Homo sapiens: one gene and its partners. The protein of the gene in region 3 purifies or fractionates together with the protein of the main gene of each other region. This does not show direct contact. Each region holds a gene or a part of one and is shown on either strand. Other genes may lie near its edges.

The links. Proteins that work in one complex are often made in the same cells at the same time.
Region 1: the proteins of SDF2 (region 3) and NUBPL purify together in Homo sapiens (affinity purification with mass spectrometry; one large-scale study listed by BioGRID and IntAct). This does not show direct contact.
Region 2: the proteins of SDF2 (region 3) and ZER1 purify together in Homo sapiens (affinity purification with mass spectrometry; one large-scale study listed by BioGRID and IntAct). This does not show direct contact.
Region 4: the proteins of SDF2 (region 3) and CNTNAP1 purify together in Homo sapiens (affinity purification with mass spectrometry; one large-scale study listed by BioGRID and IntAct). This does not show direct contact.

Annotation. Positions count from the first base shown.
Region 1 is NC_000014.9:31,844,404-31,847,903, forward strand, and holds part of NUBPL (iron-sulfur cluster transfer protein NUBPL isoform 1 precursor), read left to right. Parts: intron 1-2,067; coding exon 2,068-2,188; intron 2,189-3,500.
Region 2 is NC_000009.12:128,729,286-128,731,606, forward strand, and holds the end of ZER1 (protein zer-1 homolog), read right to left. Parts: intron 2,110-2,321; coding exon 2,052-2,109; 3' UTR 501-2,051; downstream 1-500. UniProt on the Homo sapiens protein: Serves as substrate adapter subunit in the E3 ubiquitin ligase complex ZYG11B-CUL2-Elongin BC. Acts to target substrates bearing N-terminal degrons for proteasomal degradation with the first four residues of substrates being the key recognition elements.
Region 3 is NC_000017.11:28,647,846-28,651,906, reverse strand, and holds the end of SDF2 (stromal cell-derived factor 2 precursor), read left to right. Parts: intron 1-364; coding exon of another isoform or gene 365-421; intron 422-2,630; coding exon 2,631-2,918; 3' UTR 2,919-3,561; downstream 3,562-4,061.
Region 4 is NC_000017.11:42,685,531-42,689,030, forward strand, and holds part of CNTNAP1 (contactin-associated protein 1 precursor), read left to right. Parts: intron 1-426; coding exon 427-611; intron 612-1,372; coding exon 1,373-1,516; intron 1,517-2,189; coding exon 2,190-2,451; intron 2,452-2,931; coding exon 2,932-3,081; intron 3,082-3,345; coding exon 3,346-3,500. UniProt on the Homo sapiens protein: Required, with CNTNAP2, for radial and longitudinal organization of myelinated axons. Plays a role in the formation of functional distinct domains critical for saltatory conduction of nerve impulses in myelinated nerve fibers.

The DNA.
Region 1 (3,500 bases), on a different chromosome or scaffold from region 3:
TAGTTAATAAACAAGCTGTGTGACATTAAGCTATGTTTCTCTCTAGCTTTCTGGAGATAGTACTGAATTCCCAAAACACAGCGTGATTTATTTTTTGTGATAGTGTGCATCAGCAAAAGGGCATATATTAGATGCTTGGAAAATGCTTTGCTATAGATTTATGTCTTTTTACTATTTGTCTTCATATATAATTATTGGGGGCAACTTTAGTTTTTTCTATTTCTCTTTTCAGAAAGAATAACAATTTTTTCGCCTTCTTATCTATATGTTTCATTGTGGACTATCAGTACTGTTCTTCATTTAAAATGCAAATGTTCTAATAATCTACAATCATAACCTTATGGTAGAACTGATACAGACATTGTAATCTCTAAGCCTCTGAAAATAGTGTTCTGCATTTTTATTGTAATCTCTAAGCCTCTGAAAATAGTGTTCTGCATTTTTATTCTAGAAGAGAGCTACTGCTCCTCATCAATGAGAGAGTGGGATTAAAAGGAACATGAGTAAGGATTATATTTGCAGAGCCTATCTATTTATTCAACAGTATTGTTGAATAATAACATTTCTTAAGTATCATCTTCCCTCAATATATGTGGGGGATTGGTTCCAGAATCGCCCTCCCCCCGCCACTGCATATTCCAAAATTCATGCATACTGAAGTCCCACAGTTGCTTCTAGGACATCAGCCATTCCGGTACTTGGGTTTTGTGGCGGGCAAATACTATATTTTTTATCTGTGGTTGGTTCAAAAAAAATTCACACATAAGTGGACCCCCCACAGTTCAAACTCATGTTCAAGGTTTAGCTGTATCTATTTTGTAGCAGAATCTAGGGAAACTTAGAAAGAGAATGACCTTTTCTATGAAACTTAATTTTGTTTCAGACAATAACATTCTGATAAGAGCTGAGTTTTACTCTTTTGTTAGCACTGTCAGTTTTCTCAACCATAGAATGAGAATGATAAAATAACCATCTCGGCTGGGCACGGTAGCTCACTCCTCTAATCCCAGCACTTTGGGAGGCCGAGGTGGGCGGATCACCTGAGGTTGAGAGTTCGAGACCAGCCTGACCAACAGGAAGAAACCCTGTCGCTACTAAAAATACAAAATTAGCCGGGTGTGGTGGTGCACGCCTGTAATCCCAGGTACTCGGGAGGCTGAGGCAGGAGAATCACTTGAACCCAGGAGGTGGAGGTTGCGGTGAGCCGAGATCGCGCCATTGCACTCCGGCCTGGGCAACAAGAGCGAAACTCCATCTCAGAAACAAACAAAACAAAAAACAAAATAACCATCTCATAAAGTTCTTGTGAAGAGTAAATAAGATAGTACATTTAAAGTACTTAACCCAGCACCTGGCATACAACAAACACTTCGTTATTTTAGATTTACTGTGAGACTTCGTCCAAAGTTACCTCTTAGGTATTTATTTTCCTCTGTTCCTCCCTTCTTATTTTTCTCCAAATTGTCATCAAAGATAAATTTCTAAAACAAAAATCTGATTGTATAACTACCTCTTTGATACCATCTTTTCAGCTTTGAAAACCTTTAGTGGTTTCCTGTTGTCTGAAGAGGAATGCCTCAAATACATGGATGGTATTCAGCATCTTCCCACGTGGCCCTAGCCTTCCTTCCCAAACCATCTTCTGCCTTGACCACCCACTGGGTTGCAGCCCAAGTAGGCCACACAGTTTTATTTTGCTACCTTGGCTTGTTGTCTTCCTTCTGTCTAGAATTCCTGCTGTGGGCCTCACCTCCTCATCACCCCACAACCTGAAGAAACAACTGTCTATGGGAAACTCAAAGATTTCTCTTCTTTCTAGGCAGAATTTTTGGTTCCTGTTCATTCATCTCTTTTTAGCATTTATTATGATATCAAAGGTAATTCTATATGTCTTGCTCTCTTACTAGCTCATGAGTTCCTTCAGAGCAGAGGCCATAGTTTATTCATCATTGTGATAACATTGATGAGTGCCACTAGAACTCAGTAGGCACTCTGTAAAAATTTGTTGAAGTAATGTATTAATATTTGGTTTAATTTTATTTTGATTTCAGTGTGTTTTTATTCTAGGTCCTTGGCCTTGTCCAAAACATGAGTGTTTTCCAGTGTCCAAAATGTAAACACAAAACTCATATTTTTGGTGCTGATGGTGCAAGGAAACTAGCACAGACCCTTGGTCTTGAAGTTCTAGGTAAGACTGTGGGATGTTCTTTTGTAGAAGAAGTGGCAGAAGAGAAAGTGGGGATGAGGCTTGATGATTAAGAGTGTCTCAGAGGCCGGGCACGGAGTCTCACACCTGTAATCCCAGCACTTTGGGAGGTCGAGGTGGACAGATCACGAGGTCAGGAGATCGAGACCATCCTGGCTAACATGGTGAGACCCTGTCTCTACTAAAAATACAAAAAATTATCCAGGCGTGGTGGCGGGCGCCTGCAGTCCCAGCTACTCAGGAGGCTGAGGCAGGAGAATGGCATGAACCCTGGAGGCGGAGCTTGCAGTGAGCTGAGATAGCACCACTGCACTCCAGCCTGGGTGACAGAGTGAGACTCCATCAAAAAAAAAACAAAAAACAAAAAACAGTGTCTCTGAAAATGATGAGTTGCTTTTGGCTTTGTGTTTTAAATTAATATAGCACAGTTCTATGTGTTAACCTTTCTTTGGCTTTTTTGAATAGGTTTGTTCTGTCAACTATGATAATTTCTATTTTAAATAAAAACTGTCTATAACTTAAATTTGAGAATAGAGTTTTGTAGTCCAAGTACTGTAATTTGAAGCCATATTTTAAATGATACTCATCAGTGTGTTTGCTAAGTTGGGTGTACATCTCTCAGTAGAAACAGGTACATTAAAATGTCTGTTCCGTATGTTGTAAAAACCTCTAAAAGTGTTCGTTCTTAGTGCATATGTAAAAATGCCTTCCTGATTAATTCTTTGTTAGTCTTTCTGCTTTAGAATGGCAGTATTTACTGTTTTCTGTAATATTTAATGTGTTTGATATGTCTTTAAAATATGGCACCTGAAATTTACATTGTACGCACTGTTCATGGCACTGAACTGAAGAGTTCATTAGTGCTGTGAGGAAAACTAAAATCATGTGTTAAATAAGCAAAACACAGGTTTTGGATAAAACATGATGTTCCAAAAATCCACAGGCAACTTAACAGACTTTTTAGAAAACATGTTTTGATATTCTAATTGTGAATGGGTTTCTGTTCTTGCCAAAGGCAGGTGTTAGATGCTGAATAGGGAAGGCATAAAGTGAATTATTAGACTTAGGTAGTTAAAAATTAAGATCCCTAGAGATTAAGGAATTTCAAAACATTCTCTGTTATAATTAAGTTTCTAAAAGTTGATGTTAAATATATTATTGTTATGCATTTGCACTATAGCAGCCACTACAATACCAGGTGAATACTAATGATATATTTTGATACATTGCTATAATTATAGCCACTAATTATATTCTGCAACTGTTTTTCATTTAACCCAGAAAGTTCAATTTT
Region 2 (2,321 bases), on a different chromosome or scaffold from region 3:
CCTGGGTTTGGCTCCACTCTGTCCTCTTGTAAGAAGCCTCCCAGACACATGGGGACATCGTGCTGGCTCCTCCCCCTCTCCCCAAAGCACTGTGGCCCAGCGGACTCCAAGCTTCCCTGATCCGCCTGCCCACTCCCATCCACTGGCAGGAGGCACCTCCTCCGCTGCCTTCTCCCTGATGGTGGCACAGAGTTGTAATCTTCTATTTGCCATCTGTCTCCCCCATCAGGCTGAGCCATCTTAGGCAGGCACCCTGTTGGTCTGGTTGCCAGCTGTGTCCTCAGTGGGCACAGGGATGTGAAGAGAACACATAGGAAACAGGTACTCCAGCTCAGTCCCCTGCCACCTGTCCCCAGCCTGCAGCCCTTTAACCCACCAAACGCACCCCTCCCTACCACAGAACTACCTACACTGCAGCCCCCCTGCCAGGGGTGGCTCAAGCCCTGCTCCAGAGCCTGGAAGCCAGGCTAGCAATCCCCTCCACAAAAAAAGACGCTCTGTTTTCCATTTTGCACAAAAATGTATTTCTGTGACTTCCCAAAGTACAGACATTTCCCCAGGCCCCAGGGGGTAAAGCAATGAGGTGTGAAGTCTGCCAGGGTCTGGCCGGGGCCGCTGAGCGTGGGAAGGAAGGGAGCGCCGCATGCAGCCCATCTGCCAAGCTGGGGGAACACAGGGCTGCGCCCACTTCCCAGGGCCGGGAGGGAGAGGCTCCAGGAGAAAAAGGCCAGGTGTCTCTCCCAAAGCTGCTCACCCCTGCCGTCCTGCCTGGAGGCAGAAATGCTAGGAACACCTGAAAACAGGCCCGCGGGAGGAAAAGGGAAGAAAAAGCCATCACCCAAAGGCTGCCTCCAGGGTTAGCGCTGCTCCCCAGGCCCCTGCGCTCCACAAGTGTCCGATGAGAAGCAATGCAGTGTCCATCGATGGAGGAGCAAGAGAGCCGGCGCCTCTCAGGCTTCCAAGGTAAAGCCTAGGGCAGGGCGGGACCGCCAGGGAGGCCCAAGCGGCCACTGCAGGGCAGTCCGAGTGCTGGTCTGGAGGCGGCTGTGTGGCCGTTGTGGGTCAAAGGCTGTCATGGGACCTCTGCCTCTGAGAGGCGTGGGGTCCTCTGGGCAGCGGGGCAGGCTGGGAGGAGGAGGCAGGCTCAGTTCTGCTGGTGGGAGCGCCTGGGCAGTTGAGGGCTATGGAGCGAGGAAGCAAGCCCCTGGCCCCAGAAGATGCTAGCTTCCAGGGCTGAGGGCAGGTTCTGGATGTGTTTGGCAGAAGGGGCAGTGGAATCTGCCCCTGAGTTCTGACCATCCCTGGGCTGGGGCTTTCCACAGCCTGGGACCTGGTGGGAGACTAGGAGGCAGCCTCCATAGCAGCGTGGCCTCAGGCAGGCCTGGCTGGACAGCAGCAGGGCCACTGGGTGCCCTGCTCCTAGAGGGTCTTCAGGGGCAGGGCTGCCTGGACCTCAGCCTAGGAATGGCTCACTTTCCTGCCCCAGATGGCCCACAGCCGGGAGCACCAAGGCTTTTGGGAGACCCAGTGGGGTAAGTTCTAATCCCCAAACCCCATCAGCTGTGCCCGGGAGCCGAGATGGCGTTCTCAGGCAGGGGCAGTGGGTCAGGATGCTCGATACGCTGTCCAAGGCCTGCTCCTCTCATGAAAGGAAGCCAGGCCGGGATCTGAGTTTCCTGGACAAGGACTGGACACTCACAGCGTTATAGGCATTTAGTCTGGTTGGGGTAGGAGTGTGTGTGTCAGCGATGAAGGCTGAGTGGGTTTGAGAATGGCCAAGGAAGCTGCAAGGACTCAGGAGTGTTGCTTTTGTTTTTGCACAGAAATCATACACACAAAACTTCACACTTCCTAACCAAAAAAAAAATATATATATATAATATATATATATCTCACTAACATTAAGGAAAAGCGTCGGTTGTGCAAAAGTCCCCCATGTCTCTTCACTCCGTGGGAGGCTCCCTCGGAAGGGGCCCGCCCGCTGGGCTGCTTGAGCATGCTTCCTCCCCGCCTGTGGTCCAGAGCGGTGGCGGCCATGGGGACGGAGGCCTCTATCTAGACGTGTCCATGTTCTCCTCTTTAAAGTTACTGCAGTGCTCAATCACCTTGCTGGAGACAATGGGGGAGACAGGATTGGAGGGTGGGCTTGGGTGGGGGTGAGCCCAGCCCCTCCGAGATCATTAGGCAGCTGGGTAAACACGTGTTCATAGTGATGGTGATGCTGACCGAATGATGTGGACAGAGGGGCTGGCAGAGTGGCTGGCATGTGCAGGGGACTCAGGGAATGGCACCTGTGGCCGTGAATGCCATCACCAGCCATC
Region 3 (4,061 bases):
TGCCATCCATGTATTGAACTTCAGTTCAGTTCCAGTATACAAATATAGCAGTATCAGAATTACATACTGGTACCCTCCTGGGAACAATTTTATCAAGTAGAGTGTACACACACACACACACACACACTTCTGAAATAATCAGTAATTTTTTAATTGCCATCGTATAGAAACTGAATATTTGGCCTTAAGGAAGATGGGATTTAGATGAGGAGTAGAATATAGAGAACTTGCTTTCTCTCTCACTGCCTTATTAGAAAGAAAGAAAAGAATGTAGAAAACTTGCTATGTTTTGCTCAGTTAATATTTGCTATCTCATTTAATTCTCACAGTTGCTCTGTAAGGTGATATTGTGATCATTTTATAGAGGAGAAAACAAAGGCTCAAAGGATTTACAGAAGAAGGGATCAAGTTGAGATTCAAGGTCAGCCTGACTCCCAGAGTCCATTCCCTTTTGAACTTGTCATCAGGTCATTTAAAATCTAGTTAAGAGAATGAAGCAGTAATATTTAAAGTCAAATAACAAGAGATATAAAGTATTTTAAGGGCAGAATGTGGTGGCTCATGCCTGTACTCCCAGCACTTTACTACGCTGAGGTAGGTGGATCACTTGAGGCTGGGAGTTTGAGACCAGCCTGGTCAACATGGTGAAACCCCCATCTCTATTAAAAAATACCAAAATTAGCTGGGTGTGGTAGCACATGCCTGTAATCCCAGCTATTCTGGAGGCTGAGGCATGAGAACCCAAGAGGTGGAGGTTGCAGAGAGCCGAGATTGTGCCATTGCACTCCAGCCTGGGCGACAGAGCGAGATGCTGTCTCAAAAAAGTAAAGTATTTTAAAGCCAGCACGGTGGCTCACACCTGTAATCCCAGCACCCTAAAAGACCAAGTGGGGAGAATCGTTTAAGTCCAGGAGTTAGAGGCCAGCCAAGGCAACACAGTTGCCTACCAAAAAACTTTTAATTACCTGGGTGTGGTGGTATATGCCTGTTGTCTTAGCTACTCAGGAGGTGAGGCCATAAGACCACTTGAGGCACTGCACTCCAGCCTGGGCAACAGAGCAAGATACCCTAACTGTTTTTTTTTTTTTTTTTTTTTTTTTTTTGAGACAAAGTCTCACTCTTGTCATCCAGGCTGGAGTCCAGTGGTGCAATCTCGGCTCACTGCAACCTTCGGCTCACGGCAACCTCCGCCTCCCAGGTTCAAGCGATTCTCCTGCTTCAGCCTCCCGAATAGCTGGGATTACAGGCGCCTGCCACCACACCTGGCTAATTTTTGTATTTTTAGTAGAGATGGGGTTTTACCATGTTGGCCAGGCTGGTCTTGAACTCCTGACCTCAGGCGATCTGCCCGCCTCGCCCTCCCAAATTACTGGGATTACAGGCATGAGCTACCGTACCTGGCCACAATCCCAACTCTTAAAAAGAAAAAAAAAAGAAATTCTGTTTTAACACTGTAATAGAAAATATAAGGCAATTATAGTATTAATTGCAAAATAAGTGTTTGGACCATAATCTTTTTTTTTTCCTTTCTTTTTGATGCCATGACTCAGATAAGAACCATGGACCATAATCTTATAGCAATGAATTTTTTTCCTCCTATGTCCTTTATGTCTTTCGTCTTTTTCCATGGTTCATGGTTTAAACAACACTGGAGTGGCCGGGCACGGTGGCTCATGCCTGTAATCCCAGCACTTTGGGAGGCTGAGGCGGGAGGATCACCTGAGGTTGGGAATTCGAAACCAGCCTGACCAACATGGAGAAACCCTGTCTCTACTAAAAATACAAAATTAGCCGGGCATGGTGGCACATGCCTGTAATCCCAGCTACTAGGGAGGCTGAGGCAGGAAAATCACTTGAACCTGGGAGGCGGAGGTTGTGGTGAGCCGAGATTGCGCCATTGCACTCCAGCCTGGGCAACAAGAGCGATACTCTGTCTCAAAATAAATAAATAAATAAATAAATAAAATAACAACACTGGAAAGCAGCTGAATTTTTTTTTTTTTTTTGAGATGGGGTCTTGCTCTGTAATCCAAGCTGGAGTGCAGTGGTATGATCACAGCTCATTGCAGCCTTGATCCCCTGGACTTAGGTGATAGCTGTAGTAGCTGGGTACCATAGGCATGTGCCACCATGCCCAGCTAATTTCTTTTTTTTTTTTCTTTTTTTTTTTTTGAGACAGAGTTTTGCTCTTGTTGCCCAGGCTGGAGTGCAATGGTGTGATCTCGGCTCACCGCAACCTCCGCCTCCCGGGTTCAAGCGATTCTCCTGCCTCAGCCTCCCGAGTAGCTGGGATTACAGGCATGTGCCACCACACCCAGCTAATTTTGTATTTTTAGTAGAGACAGGGTTTCTCCATGTCGGTCAGGCTGGTCTTGAACTCCTGACCTCAGCTAATTTCTTTTGTATTTTTTTTAGGGATAGCGTTTCACCATGTTGCCCAGGCTGGTCTCAAACTCTTGGGCTCAAGTGATCTGCCCTGCTCAGCTTCCCAAAGTGGTAGGATTACAGGCATAAGCCTGGCCCCTCTGATTTTTTACTTCAAGGTGGCCTTCTTTTTCTTCCCATTGCCTCCCACCCCTTTTCAAGCCCTTGTCAGCCATGCTGATGTTACTACCTTCTGTATTTTCTAGGAAGTGAGTGCTTTTGGTGAGGAAGGTGAAGGTGATTATCTGGATGACTGGACAGTGCTCTGTAATGGACCCTACTGGGTGAGAGATGGTGAGGTGCGGTTCAAACACTCTTCCACTGAGGTACTGCTGTCTGTCACAGGAGAACAATATGGTCGACCTATCAGTGGGCAAAAAGAGGTGCATGGCATGGCCCAGCCAAGTCAGAACAACTACTGGAAAGCCATGGAAGGCATCTTCATGAAGCCCAGTGAGTTGTTGAAGGCAGAAGCCCACCATGCAGAGCTGTGAATCTAGAGGCTCTGAGCCACTGTTAACGCACAATGTTCACAGACATCTGTTGCTGCCTCACCTTGGGATCCCTGCCACAAGTTCCTTGGGCAGTGGCCATGTCACCATTGAGATGAAGATATACAACAGAAAATAGTGGCTGTGTTTGGAAGCTTCAGCCCTGCACATTTGAACTAGTCACTCTCCCAGACTTGCGTGGGTCAGTTCTTTCTGAGTAGAGGACTTGCTGGTAAAGGGGCAGATGCTTTTTATTAGTACTGATAAAACAAACTGAGGGAAACATCCCTCTTAGCTGGGAAACTTTTACTCTTCAGGAGCTTGGCATCATGGACTGTTAATGTATGTGATTTTCCCCCTATTTTCTCTCTCCAAAATGATAAAAACAATAATTTTATTATGAGTCACTGTGTTGTTATTTATTAGGTGTGCTATTTCATTAGCTGCTTAATCCTTTGAGTCCTAAGACTCTTTGGAGACGCTATGAAGCTCCAATGTGGGCCCTTTTAAGAGCTTTTCTTGCATACAAACCTTTTCTCCCTCTACTTTGACTTCTCTCCAGGCATCTCATCTTTAATAGATCTTTGACTAATTATAGCTAAAAACTCTCAGAGAATACAGCATAATAAATAGCCAGTGAAATGTTTGCTTTGTATCTGTTACTGCAGATGAGAAAAAGGTGTAGGGGTAGAAAGAACGAACCAGTATTTATTCACTGCTAAATACTAGGTACCATATTATAGATCTTTTTTTTTATTTATTGTTTTTTAGACAGAGTCTCGGTCTGTCGCCCAGGCTGGAGTGCAGTGGCGCGATCTCGGCTCACTGCAAGTTCCACCTCCTGGGTTCACAACCATCCTCCTGCCTCAGCCTCCCAAGTAGCCGGTGCTACAGGCACCCGCCACCACGCCAGGGTAATTTTTTTGTATTTTTAGTAGAGACAGGGTTTCACTGTATTAACTAGGATGGTCTCGATCTCCTGACCTCATGATCCGCCCGCCTCAGCCTCCCAAAGTGCTGAGATTACAGGCGTGAGCCACCGCACCCGGCCTATAGATCTTACCTCATTTAATCTTCACAGAATTCATATAGGGTAATACTGCATTTTTATCAGTGCAGCAGTTGAGTAACTGCCTGAATTCTTTT
Region 4 (3,500 bases), about 14 Mb from region 3:
TAAGGCCTGGACCAAACTGCCCCTTTCTTGTAGCATTTGGTGCTAGCAAAACACTGGAGTTGAGTGAGAACTGGATTCCAGTCTCAGCTCTACCACTACACAGAGATGTGACCTCGGATGGGGCACTTCCGAGCCTCAGTTCCCTCCTTGTAAACACACACACACAGACGCACACACATTGTATCTCATTAGCTTTTCATAACACCCGCACATGAAATAGAAGCAGCTCATGTGTTCCCAGTTTTACAGACAGGAAGCCAGGCTAAATGGCTTACCCTGTCACACACTCGCCAATGGCTGTTGATCTATTCGCCCACTCTCCCTGATTGCCCTGGGCTTTGTTACACGCTGCTGCTCTGCCTAGGAGCTTGGACTCCATGGAGTTCTCCTGGCTTGAGGTTTCACTCTGTCCTGCCCCACCCTCAGGCAGCAGCCCTATCCAGCCAAGACCAGGTCACACCACCGTGAGCGCAGGCGGAGTCCTCAATGACCAGCACTGGCACTATGTGCGGGTGGACCGATTTGGCCGCGATGTAAATTTCACCCTGGACGGCTATGTGCAGCGCTTTATTCTCAATGGAGACTTCGAGAGGCTGAACCTGGACACTGAGGTGAGAGACTAGGGAGGTGCTATTTCGTGGTAGGGTAGATGCTGGATGAGTGAGTGCAGGTCGGTCTCTCCCTTTCTCTTTTCCTCTGTCTCTCAGAGGAAAGACCTGGCATTCAGGCTGTGGGTGGTGGCTCATGCCTGTAATCCCAGCACTTTGGGAGGCTGAGGTGGGAGGATTGCTTGAGGCCAGGTGTTCAAGACTCACCTGGGCAACATAGTGACATCCTACCTCTATTTAAAAAAATTTTTTTTTTCAAAGACCTCGCATTCCAATTCCTGAATATCCTAGCAGCCCTTGGCAAACTTGCCACTCACCAGAAAAAGGCCTGTTTTTTTTTTTTTTTTTTTTTTTTGTGGGTGTTGTTGCTGTTAGCATGCAGACTCCCAGGCACTATTTCAGAACTAATGAGATGGGGTTTGGAAATTCAGATTTTGGGGACTAGGCAAGGTAGGAAAATTGTTCCCTTGGATCCTCCCACAACTTTGTGGAGTTGTTAAAGACCCTGACCCCATCTGCAGATAAGAATCCCAGGCAGGCTAATTGACTTGCCCAAGGGCGTGCAGCCGATTTGTGTTGGAGTCAGAGCTTGAACTCAAGCCTTGAAAGGCCTAGCGAGCTTTAGTACCGACACTGGGGAAATGTGTGTTTTAAGTCTTTTACAAAACCCCATCTGGCATTTGGGAAAGCATACGGCGGGGACGCGCGAGAAAGGCAGGCGCCCTCCTGTGCCCAAGAGGCCTCATTCCCCACGCCTCCCGCAGATGTTCATCGGAGGTCTGGTGGGCGCCGCGCGGAAGAACCTGGCCTATCGGCATAACTTCCGCGGCTGCATAGAAAACGTAATCTTCAACCGCGTCAACATCGCAGACCTGGCCGTGCGGCGCCATTCCCGGATCACCTTCGAGGCCAGTGGGCAGGGGGGTCTGGGAGGACAGGATATCAAAGCGTCGTGGAAAGCAAAGAGGTGGAGCGGGAAGAGATATTGAACATCAGATAAAAGCGGAGAATCCCTCTGTCCCCAGCCAGATGCTCAAGTTGGGAGGGGAGCGGGTCTCACCTGAGGTGCATGAGCCACGCAGGCCCCTAGTTAAGAAGCAGTGGTCGGGTCCAATCACCTTCTTAGTTCATAGATGAAGAAAGTAAGGCGCAGACACAGGGAGTGGCTTGTCCAGGGGTCGTGCAGCTGCACGGTGGCTGAGTAGGGACTTGAACCGATGGCTTCTCTGATATGCCCCCCTCAACCCTCTCCGACTCTGGAGCTCTGTTGGGAAGCTGGCAGGAGCCAGGTCTGTGGTCCAAAATTGCCTCTCGATACTGGAAGGAGAGAAGCGGTCGAATCGCAGACGGTGGAGATCAGCGAGAGCAAGCGAGCAGAGTTCCGAGGGCCGACTGGGTTGGGGCCCCCTCCACAGATGGACGAGCTTGGAGGGGAAGAGGTCACGTCATGGTTGGAGATCTCACCCCCGCCAACACCGAAGGAGGGCGGTGACCAGGGTCTTAGACCGGTGTGAAAACTGAATTCCCAGCTGAGGCAGAGGCGGCTCACGGGTGTTGATGCGTCTTCACTTTTGCCCCTAGGGTAAGGTGGCTTTTCGTTGCCTGGACCCGGTACCGCACCCTATCAACTTCGGAGGCCCTCACAACTTCGTTCAAGTGCCCGGTTTCCCACGCCGTGGCCGCCTGGCAGTCTCATTTCGCTTCCGCACCTGGGACCTCACCGGGCTTCTCCTTTTCTCCCGTCTGGGGGACGGGCTGGGCCACGTGGAGCTGACGCTCAGCGAAGGGCAGGTCAACGTGTCCATCGCGCAGAGCGGCCGAAAGAAGCTTCAGTTCGCTGCTGGTGAGGGCGTTTCGGGGGAGGCACAAGAAGAGAAGAGAAGTGTAGAGGATCCCAGGAAAGTTGTAGGCCTGGACTGAGGCCTTTACATTCTGGAGAGGGGAGAGGAGTGAAGGGGGCAGGGCAGGAGGCCCCAGGGTACTGGGAAAAGGTGGGAGTGGCTAGAGGCAGTGAGGAGGCGAATCTGAGGGACTAAGTATTCTTGGAGAAGGGGGAAGCCTGGGAGTCCTGGTATTCTCCAGTTCCAGAAGGCCCCTGGAGATTTGGTTACTCGTTTATAACTGTGCAGACTCTGTGGCAGTTGCTGGGTCATGGATAATGAAGAGACATTCAGAGAGGTCTCCACTGGGTGTGAGAAGTGTAATCACGGGGGCACACAGGCTGCTACTGGGACACAGTGGGGCTGCTGCTTCCCCACTCAGAACATTCTTCTACCCTAGTTGCTGCTTCCCTCCACCCACACCATCATCCATTCTTGTCCAGGGTACCGACTGAATGACGGCTTTTGGCACGAGGTGAATTTTGTGGCACAGGAAAACCATGCAGTTATCAGCATTGATGATGTGGAAGGGGCAGAGGTCAGGGTCTCATACCCGTTGCTGATCCGGACAGGGACCTCATATTTCTTTGGGGGTAAGTGGGGGCCAACCTGACCAGACCTCTGTTTCTGGGTGGGAAGGCTCCATCTAAGTCCACCCAGATGGGGCCACATGGAGAATTTTGGAGGGATCAAGCCCTCTTCCCCTCTGGGGCCTCAGGGAGTGGAAGGTCATTGCCATCTACACTTTGGTTGTAGTCCCCTTTCTTCCTTTATGTCTGGCTCCCCCTCAGCATGTCCCTGGGGGAGGGTCTTTGGGGTCTCCCCTGGGGAGGATCTCACAGGGGTGGTTGCTCCAGGTTGTCCCAAGCCAGCCAGTCGATGGGACTGCCACTCCAACCAGACGGCATTCCATGGCTGCATGGAGCTGCTCAAGGTGGATGGTCAACTGGTCAACCTGACTCTGGTGGAGGGCCGGCGGCTTGGATTCTATGCTGAGGTCCTCTTTGATACA